3 linked regions of the Homo sapiens genome follow. The protein of the gene in region 2 interacts with the protein of the main gene of each other region in a biochemical or structural test. Each region holds a gene or a part of one and is shown on either strand. Other genes may lie near its edges. The genes, in order: NR2F1, BCL11B and SUV39H1.

Region 1 (3,750 bases), on a different chromosome or scaffold from region 2:
TATCTGCTGTTCAGATCGATATTAATACTACATTTGCTACATTACAATATTGTGCAAATTTAGGAGTCATTTTAATACAATGTAAATACAATTCTTCACACATGAAAGCCAAGAAATATTGATAGATTATACCATTGCTTACTGTTCAACAAGGCCTTATGAAAGGGATTTTGCTATCCCTGTTCAAGAATGGTTTTAATTTGGCCATTGGAAAGCCTGGTTCTAGGATAGATTTATTAGGATGGTTTATTTGTTCTCCGAATGGAGGAATTAAAAACAATACTGCCAATAATGGTGGTAAAACTGCAGCTAACCCTACTCACAGTGGGCAGGGCCCAAGACCCAGTCTAAGCAGCACTACTTGCCACCAGCCTCCTCTCTGGCTTTGTCTCTATTTCTCCCCATTACCTGCTGTCCTGGGTGTTTATATGTTTCCCTCTTACAGGTTACAATAATAAAAAGCGGGGATTGTTCTCGGAGGCTCAGACCAGAGCCCTTCAAAGGAAACGTTAATGCACTTTTCTGGAAGTTAATTTGAACCATCTATCATAAGAGAAATTGTTAACATGCATGTTACCACTGCCTACACATAATTTGATATTTTTTAAGGCACTCTTAAATTTCCAGTGTTCATGTGTTTTGCATAGCTTTGGAATTCATCTTCAGGCGGGGAATCCTCCCATACTTGCGGGTTCTACAGCATTGCTTTTGTTTTTTATCTTTCTTGTTTAGATCGAATCCGTTTTTTACGACCCTCAATAACCTCACCAACTGCAAACATGAATGGTTTCCGATAAGGGAAAATCAGGCAGCGATAAAGCGGGATTATTATGATTTATTTGTGCGTATTCTTCTCTTTCCACCTCTCTCTGTGTCTCTCTGTGTCGGGAAATTCATTCAAGGAGAGTGCCACACAGGGTAAGAAGCCACATTCCCACGTTCTCTTCCTTCCCTCGCCTCCCCCAGAAACGCTGAGCTCTGGCTCACACATAACACGCACCACACACAGACACACACACAGAGACACACACACACACACACACGCGCGCGCGCGCGCGCAGCCAGACGGATCCACAGCACCGCCCCCCCGCCTCAGACACACACCCTCGGCAGCCGCGGCCCCACGTAGGGGTCCGGGCGACTAGGCCCGGCCGCCCGCCGGCCGCACCCGCGCCGCCTCGGTTCCCGCACCGCCGCGCTCCCAAGATGGCAGCGGCGCGGCCAGCCGGTCACCGCGCGGGGGTCACAGACCCGGGCCAGGCTCAGTGTCCAGCGAGGGCCCGGCCCGCCCCGCACCGGCCGCGCGGGAGGCTCCGAAGGCCAGGCCCGGGCGGCGCGGGGCCTGCGCTCGCTGCCGGCGCGGCCTGCCCTCCCCGCGACCGCAGCCTCACCTGACGTGAACAGCACGATGGCTTTGAGGCAGCTGTACTCGGCTGAGTCGACGTGTAGCGCCTTGAGCTTCTCCACCTGCTCCTGGAAGATGCGGATGTGGTCCATGAAGGCCACGACGCGGTCGGCAGACATGGGCGAGGCATGCAGGCCGGCGGCGGCCAGCAACGGCGCCACGTGCAGCGGCATAGAGCACTGGGCCGCGTTGAGCACGAACAGCTCGCTCCAGGTGAGGCGTAGCAGGGACACCTGGTCGGTGATCTGCAGATCCGGGAAGAAGGGGATGTTGCGGGCCCACTCGACGGCGCTGAAGAGCAGGCGCGCGGCCAGCTCGCAGATGTTCTCGATGCCCATAATGTTGTTGGGCTGCATGCACTGGCTGCCGTAGCGCGACGTGGGGTAGGGCTCGGCGCGCAGCAGCAGCGAGATGTAGCCGGACAGGTAGCAGTGGCCGTTGAGGGGGTCCCCGTTGGTGAGTGCGTACTGGCCTGGATTGGGCTGGGTTGGAGGCATTCTTCCTCGCTGAACCGCTGACAAAAAGAAAGAGAGAAAAGAGGCAATGTGCATCCAGGGAGCTTGCGAACATTGCCGCGCCGCAGCGTACCCAACACAATGCAGAAGCTCTTCCCGCAGCCACACGCGCCCCGCGCATCTTCTCCGGCTCGCTCTCACAGTCCACACCGCTAGGAGATCTGGGGTGAGGCCCTCCAGCTCCACAGCTCAGTGTGTCCAGCCACTGCCTGAGCCCCTGGCCACGTCAGCCCCGCCGGAGCTAGGCCTGACTCCAGGGCCCCAACCCTGGCAAGGTCAAGAAAGTGTCATCCAACCCCTAAGCCACCACGGGGGAACACACAGATAAATGAAACCCCACTCACCCCTCCAGAATGGAAAAAAAAAATCAGGGTTAAAAAAAGGCGAAACCGGAGAAAGGTTGTGGTTCTAGGCAAATGCCTAGCGGCCTCCTCATTTGCAAGCAAGCAGCGTTTTGCTGATAAAATGTTTCCACATTCTCTTAAAATGCTATAGAATAATTCTTAAAATAGACACAAGTTACATATCCTACTAACCACTTACAACTTTTGAGTAGAGAACAAGTATCCTGCACCCCTCCCTTCTCCCCTCCTCCCCGTCGCCCCATACAAAGTTCTCACTATTAAAAGCAACAGAAAATTGAAAATTTTCAAGAAAAAAAGTTGAACTTACAGTAGCCAAACATTATTGAAAAAAGTAGGAAATATAATTAATGTCTGTCCTGCGCGGTGCCACTGCAACCTGCAGCCAGCTTTTGCCCAGTGAATGCACGAGCTTTCAACTGCAAAAACACTGGATTCATTAACCATCTGAATGCAAAACGTAAGCATGCTTTGAGTTCTTAAAGCTGACCAAAGTTTTTTTTTTTTTTTTTTTAAATGTGTATGTTTTACTTCAACAGTGCCAGCGTTTTAAATTGCCATATAAACAAAGACAACTTTAGGAAAAGTTAGGGCTACTGAACTCTTCCCCCAACAAATTAATATAGATATGTTCATGTACATGTAGCTATCTTATTTCAGGTTTTGTTCTATTTTCTTAAGTTTGCTTTGATTCTAATTTTAATGCAAGTTCCAGTGCAATTGAAGCTCTTGAAACATAATGCCTAGAATACTTTTTTCTAATTATAGTTTTGAACTTGGCAGTTATTTTTCAATTAAGTGAGAGTACAATTCAAAGTTTTTTTTTTTTCAGATGCCTACAAAATCTCCCTGGAGCTAGAAATGAAGTAGTCATATTTGTCTGCTCCTTGAGATCTGAAGGAATTCAATTTCTTTTCTTGTGGCATATAAAATATAATTTTAAAGTCAATTACAAGAAGGAGTAATCTGCATTCTGCAAAATTGACTGGTTCGCTAATTTGACTATAAGACATCTTTAATGATTGTCAAGAGATAAACTTTAACTGTAAACGGCTAAATATATTTATAAGAAAAGTACTGCATCTCTTGCCACATGAACATGAAGCATATCCAAATACAACATCAAAAGTTGTGTTTTTTTTTAAAAAAAACAAACCCATACAACACAGGGATTAAATGATGTGGAAGCTCATGCTAGCTGCAGTCTATGCATTACGGCCAAATCAGAAGGATCGGTAAATGCCGTTGTAAATTGTAATTTGTATGCAGTATTTAAGCAGAGGGTGGAGTTTGATGAAGAAATAAAACGAGTATCATGCTTTAAAAAAAATGACACAACTATGAAAGCACGGTTCAGTCACAAACTTTCCTTTCAAAGTAGAGGGGTGAAAACAAGGCCACAGCTCTGGAGGAGGCGGCCCCAGCTCCGTGAAGAAGAGAGGGAACCAGTGAACGGGCCAGAAGCCCC
Region 2 (3,750 bases):
CTCGGACGAGTGCTCGGACGACGTGGCGAAGGGCGACTGTCGTGCGTCCGTGAAGCCCAGGAAGGGGTCCTTCATGAAGTGCCGCGACGCCGCGTAGCCCACCAGCCACTGCGAGTACACGTTCTCGGACGGGATGAGCGCGGCGGGCGGCAGCTCCAGGTCCTTCTCCACCTTGATGCGCTTGGCGGCGCTGTTGAGCCCGGGGCTGGGCAGCGGCGCGGGCTTGCGCGGGAAGAGCCCGGGGAAGGGCTCGGTGCCTGGCGCGAAGCCGCCCCCGCGCCCGTTGACCGCGCCGCCCGCGCCCGCGTCCCCGCAGCCGCCCGCGTCGTCGTCGTCGCCCGCGTCCCCGCCGCCCGCCGCACGCTTCAGGAAGGCGCCGCGCTTCTGCTTGTCGGCCAGGAGCTCGCCGTACTGCGGCAGTGCGCCTAGGCCCACGTTCTCCATGACCTTGCCCAGCACCAGCGCCTTCTCGTCAGCCAGCGCCTTGGCCGCGCCGCCCCCCGCGCCCGGGACCCCGGGCACCCCACCACCGCCGTTCTCGCGGTTGCGGCTCAGCTCCGAGTCCATGCTGAAGCTCGACTCGGGCCGGCTCTCGTTCTCCAGTAGCAGCTCCTCCTCCTCCTCCTCCTCCTCCTCGTCCTCCTCCTCCGGCTCGTGGCCCAGCGACGGGTCGCTCTCGTGGTGGCGGAAGTCACCGTCGGCCGCCTTGAGGCCCTCGCCCGCCAGCTCGCTGGTGCCGGGCTCGGGGGAGCTGGCGGCCGAGAGCCCGTCGTCGGAGCGGCCGGCCAGCGAGCCGGCCTTGTGCATGTGCGTCTTCATGTGGCGCTTGAGCTTGCTGGCCTGCGAGCACGCGTGGTCGCACAGCTGGCACTTGTAGGGCTTCTCGCCCGTGTGACTGCGCCGGTGCACGATGAGATTGCTCTGGAACTTGAAGGTCTTGCCGCAGAACTCGCACGACTTGCTCTTGGCTGGCGGCTGCGGGGGCGGCGTGCCGCCAGGGGGCATGGGCGGCAGCGGCGGCGTGCTCAGGAACGGGGACTTGGGGCTGGGCTGGAAGGGGTTCAGGAGCCGGTGCATAGGGTTGCCGCGGCCCGGGGACACGGGCGGCGGCGTGGAGCTGTTGCCCGCCAGCTCGCGGAGCCGCCGCGAGAAGTCCATGGCGGGCGAGTCGATGGCCATGGGGTTCAGGCGCATGACTCGGTCGAAGGCACTGGGGTGCTGGGCGACGAGCCCCATCTCCTCGGCACTGAGGCGGTGCGGGTCCAGGTGGTGGCGCGGCGGGGGACTGAAGAGAGGCGGCGTGCCCGGCAGGCGGCCCTCGCCGAAGCCCGGGTGGTCCCGCAGGATGGGGCCCGTCATGCGCAGCAGGTTGAAGGGGTTGCTGTCGCCCAGGAAATTCATGAGCGGGGACTGCGCCACGGCCTCCGGCCCGAGCGGCGGCGGGATGGTGAGCCGCGGCGTGAGCGAGCTGCTGGCCGGCCCGGGCTCCAGGTAGATGCGGAAGCCGTGCGTGTTCTGCGCGTGCTGCAGCAGGAACCACGCGCTGTTGAAGGGCTGCTTGCATGTTGTGCAAATGTAGCTGGAAGGCTCATCTTTACCTGGGGAAACACACGGACAGAAAGGCAGAGACAGCGTGAGAAGCGGCAGCGGGGCGCGGGCACCGCAGGGCCACTGGCCTGGGGGACGCGGCCCGGGCTGATCCGGGATCCCAGTGCCCTGCCTGACAGGGGCTGCAGGGCCGCTTGCAAGCAGGCCCGGCCTTGTCTCCTCCTGGCTGGGGGGCCGAAGACGCAGGTCTGTGGGCGGGCCGCCCTGGCCACCCGGGCGCCAGCGACTTACTTCAATTGTGTAAGACCCGCCTTGCTCCCCCAAAGAAAAGGGATTCTGATCTCCATTACCTCCGAGGCCACGGGAGATCGTGTTTGTGAGAATACGGTCCAGTAGTAGGAATTCTGTCAAGGCTGGACTGTGTAACAGCCCTGGCAAATCCCAGCCCTCGAGGATGCTCCACACCCGAAACCATCTAGGCCAGGGCTTCTCAGTCAAGGCACTACTGACATTTACATCCTAATTCTTTGGGCGGTGGGGGCTGTCCTGCGCATTGCAGGATGTTTAGCAACATCCTCTGCCTGCACCCACTAGATAGATGCCAGGAGCATCCACCTCCCCCGGTTGCGAGGACCAAAAATGTCTCCAGGCCTTGCCGAATCTTCCCAGGGAGGGGGGCAAGATCACCGACCCCTTTGAGAACAACCAATTCTGATAATATTTGATTCCAGGGAGTTGTACAGAAACACAAATCAAACTGTACTATCCTGCAAACTTTTTTTTTTTTAAGAGAAATAGCTGCAATACCTCTGCAACATTTGGGATTTTTAGCTATAGGAAATTCTCGTGTTTCCTACACCACCGTCTGTGCAGAAAGCACTGTACACCTGAATATGGATTCCTAGGAACAGAAAAAATTTAACATGCTGTGAAGACCGGCTACTACTGTGACAGCTGCCCCCACCCCGTGTCCTCACACACACGCCCAAACACCGCTTGGAATTCCACCTCCAGACCCCAGGGAAGGCGGGGGCACACTGGCCTACATGAGTCTTTCAAAGTCCTCTGCCAGAATACTAAGCAATGAAAGAACATCCTCACATCTGACAGGGCAGTCAGGATGAACAGTGGCAAATGCTGATGTGTTAGCAACTGGCTCTGGTGACACGGGCAGCAAATTGTAGCGAACACTCGTGGTATGGAGCCAAAACGTCATCGTCTGTGTCCATCACTGAGACAATCACAAAATGGAGGCTGAACATTTCCTCCGGAACCCATCCTGCAAGTGCCCTCCTGCACCTGGGGGTGAAGCTCGCCGCTTTTCCAGTATGTACCTCTCCTAATGCTCTGCATAAAAGAGACGGTGCAGACAGGACCCGTCTTGCAGCATTGCACTCACTAGCTGGGGATGCAAGAGGAACAAGAATCCCAGCTCAGATCCAGCAGAAGACATGGCATGCGAGATCTTGAAAGATCCCTTTTGTTTTCTCAAACTTTCATCTACCTGGAAGATTTTAACACAGATGCTAAAGTACAGGGGCCACAAGCTCTGGTGAAGTCAAACGTGCAAATGAATGACCCTTCCCAATATCGGTAAGTTGCCATGGGAAGTGGAGAAAACAGTCCCCTGTCTCACTCTCTCCACCAATCGATTACAGGCCTTCTGAAATCCTAGGCAGACAGCATTTTTGTTTTCCACCCACTAATTATGTTTCTGGAAGGCTGCACTCTTAGCAGTGTTTATAGGCACATAAACTTTCATTTGGAAACCATCTTTTAAAAATCAAGTGACTCGGGGACCAAATACCCTGAATTCCATCCAAGGTCTTGAGTGTGGCCTGTGCCTCTGCCTGAAACTGGACTTGCCAGTTTCTGAGGGGCCGGGACCTCCCCAAGACATCGCATGCCTGCAGCGTCACAGAAGGCTTCGTGCTGTCCGAGGGGCAGGGTGGAGACTCCCCCCGCGACCTCAGAACCAGTTGGCCCAGGACACCAACACTAGAAACCGAGCCAGGCTGTTACAAGTTTGGCATTACATAGGGATTCTTTCCCTCTCCTCTCCTATTCTGTGTGTTTGGTGATGAGAAGACGGTGGTAGGGAGGACAGAAATGAAAAAGGAATTCTGAAGTTCGGCCTCATCCCTCTTAAAAACAGCTCAAGGAGCACCTCTGAGGCTATCTTCTTTCTCCAGGGTGTCTGGG
Region 3 (2,933 bases), on a different chromosome or scaffold from region 2:
CAAGTCCAGTCAAAACCAGTTACGGCCAGTCTAAACCAGTCAATTTAATTGCATTGTTTTGAGACAGGGTTTGGCTCTTTTCTGGAGACAGACAGGCTGGAGTGCAGTGGTGAGATCTCAGCTCACTGCAACCTCCACCTCCCAGGCTCAAGCAATCTTCCCACCTCAGGCTCCTGAGTAGCTGGGACTACAGGTACAGGCACATGCCCCCACACCTGGCCAATTTTTGTATTTTTAGCAGAGACGTGGTTTCACCATGTTGCCCATGCTGGTCTCGAATTCCTGAGCTCAAGCGATCTGCCTGCCTCGGCCTCCCAAAGTGCTGGGATTAAAGATGTGAGCCACCACACCCAGCCTTAAGTGCATTTTAAAGTTTAAGTATAAAACAAACTTATTTTAGGTCAAGATGTTATATAGATGATGGTGTAAGTGATATGCTGTGGGGGCTGAAATTGTGAGGATTAGAGTCAAATGGCTGAGGTTTGAGGAACATGTTCCTGGGCAAACCCAGCTCCCAGCCTCTATCCCCTCAACCCCCACCCACACAAGCACCTCACATCTTGGTTTGTTCAGTCGACAGTTCATTTTATTGATGCCCACTCCAGGCTGCATAGGGTTGAGGGGTGTACAAGAGGAGAACCAGATTCAGTCCATGCCTGGAGGTTAGTCTGGGGGGCCGGCGGGATGGACACACAGACAGACACATAGATCTGGCATCTGATAGCAGGGCATACAGTCTCATGTAGGGGCACTCTGGGCACAGGTAGTCAGGAAGGACTTCCTAGAGAAGTCCTCACAGGGGGTGGGGGAGCAAGGAGCAAGGCAGCCATCAGAACCTTCGCCTTTTGTACATTTGTAGGCAGGTGACTTTTGAGACCAGTGGAACCAGGGTGAGCACAAAGGGCTGGGGTCTGGGAATGGCAGGCAGCAAGGGCTTCCCTCTCGCCTCGTCATCCCATAGTGGGGAAGCCATCTCCCCCACCCCCAATTCTTGGCCTGTACTTTGCCTTCTGCCACATGGGCCCTTTCCTGGCATCCACCTCCGTGGTTTTCAAGGCTTCCCTGAGACAATCCACGTGGACCAGGTGCTCTACCCAGTGCCTGGCACCTCATCACCACCCCATCAATGCACATTCTTGTCCTAAGTGCTATCTACGGACTATCTAGATCTTGGTTCCAGCTCTGAGTGGTGTCAGCGGTCATGACACCCCAGGTCAGGGCCCCTAGCAACCGCAGAGCTCCCAAGAGCCCTAGGTACCTTCACTGCACTGTGAAGGCAGAGCTTGGTCCCAGCCTACCTCCAGGGCTGGCCAGCTCTGCACTGCCTTCCTCTCACTGCTCAGTGGCCCATGGACACCCACTTCCCTTCCAGTGGCATGTGGGCATCCACTTCTCAGATATGCAGCCCTGAAGAAGAGACCCTACAGCTCTTAGGGCCAACACTACCCAGCACTGTAAGCACGAGCAGAAACCAGCCTCAGCCCGTAGCCCAGGGACCCCCTTTCTTTCACTAGTACAAAGTTTCTGTGGTTGGGGAACCAGCTTCATGTCGGGCTAGGCACTCTGGCCTCTGATGTCTGCCTGCTCTGGGGTTGCTTCCCCATACCTTTGGGGCAGCAGGGAGGAGGCCTGCAGCAGACCCCTCAATCTCCAGGCAGAAGCAGGTGCAAAAACAAATATATTCTGGGGCTGGGTTGGGACTCACCCCTTGGACCTCCTTAATAGGCCATGAATCCCAACGACAGAGAGTCTTGATGTTGAAAAACTATTTCTGAAGGTGGGTGGGGGTTTGTAAGTGCAACCCACAGATGGGGCTGGGACAGGGAAAGGGGACTCCTGGAGTCGGTCCTCACCACGGCCACAGCCCTGAACGTAGAGCAGGTAGGAGCAGGTGGGGGCAGGTGGAGGCAGGCGAGGCCCTGGCAGTCATTCTCGACAGGAGGGCAGCAGTGGGGGAGGTGCATGTAGCTTCAGGCCCCCTCAGTCAGTCTGGCCTCAGACTTCTAAGGGCTAGAAGAGGTATTTGCGGCAGGACTCAGTCCCACACTTGCATTCAATACGGACCCGCTTCTTAGGGGAGCCAGGGAGCCCAGCCAGGCCAAAGTTGGAGTCCATGCGGGTGCTCTCCATGTCCACGGGGTCCACTGTGGAGTCACAGCCAGGGAGGAGAGGAGGGAAGGAGGCAGGGAGGGAGGGGGAGAAGGAGGGAGGGAGGAAGGTAGGGAAGGAGGCAGGGGACTTGTTAGAAGGCCTGGATGAAGGGTCCCACTACCCTTTATACCATGAGACCAAGGATCTTTGGGGCTGGGAGCAACTCTGGGATTTGAGTTGGGAGATCTTAGGGTTGGTGGTTTGGGGCTAGGGCCAGGGCTCAGCACTGGAGGTTGTTCAGGCCAGGGGTTGAAGAATGCTGGGGGAGGCAGGGAGCCGTCAAGGAACCAGGAGGGTCGTTTTAGGTGTGTGGGGGGGGGCAGGGGCAGGAATAGAGGGCCACCTGGGCATCCAGAGGTACATCTGAACTCTCCTGCCAAAGACCTGCCCTTGAGGGTCTCAGAGGTGGCTAGCTTATCAAGGAGGGGACTGGCTGGAGGCCACAAGGGTGTCCAGAGGCTTGGGATGAAGAAGGCCAAAGGGAGCTAGGAGTGGGGAGGGGCTGGGGGATGAGGGAAACTCAGTCAAGACTGGAGTCAGGAGTTTCTTAACTCTCCAGGAATCTTGGGAGAAGTTGGTATGAATGCCTCAGGGTTAGGGTTCAGGGGCTGGGAATGAGGGGACTCGAGGGGTAGGCAGGGGTCTAGTAGTCCGAATGGGGGACTGGGAGTCAGGAAGAGCATCTTAAAGCTCCCGCTAAAGAATTTTCCTTGGTTCTCTGAGTGACTGGTGTGCCTTTGGGAGGGGTCCTTGTGTCCCAAGTCACAGTGCGCCCCTGCCCC

The links.
Region 1: the proteins of BCL11B (region 2) and NR2F1 form a complex in vitro, tested with the Homo sapiens proteins (2 studies listed by BioGRID).
Region 3: the proteins of BCL11B (region 2) and SUV39H1 form a complex in vitro, tested with the Homo sapiens proteins (one study listed by BioGRID).

What each region holds. Positions count from the first base shown.
Region 1 is NC_000005.10:93,586,086-93,589,835, reverse strand, and holds part of NR2F1 (COUP transcription factor 1), read right to left. Parts: intron 2,738-3,750; exon of another isoform or gene 2,606-2,737; coding exon of another isoform or gene 2,593-2,605; intron 1,920-2,592; coding exon 1,392-1,919; intron 1-1,391. UniProt on the Homo sapiens protein: Coup (chicken ovalbumin upstream promoter) transcription factor binds to the ovalbumin promoter and, in conjunction with another protein (S300-II) stimulates initiation of transcription. Binds to both direct repeats and palindromes of the 5'-AGGTCA-3' motif.
Region 2 is NC_000014.9:99,174,598-99,178,347, forward strand, and holds part of BCL11B (B-cell lymphoma/leukemia 11B), read right to left. Parts: intron 1,599-3,750; coding exon 1-1,598. UniProt on the Homo sapiens protein: Key regulator of both differentiation and survival of T-lymphocytes during thymocyte development in mammals.
Region 3 is NC_000023.11:48,706,648-48,709,580, reverse strand, and holds the end of SUV39H1 (histone-lysine N-methyltransferase SUV39H1), read right to left. Parts: intron 2,145-2,933; coding exon 2,011-2,144; 3' UTR 565-2,010; downstream 1-564. UniProt on the Homo sapiens protein: Histone methyltransferase that specifically trimethylates 'Lys-9' of histone H3 using monomethylated H3 'Lys-9' as substrate. Also weakly methylates histone H1 (in vitro).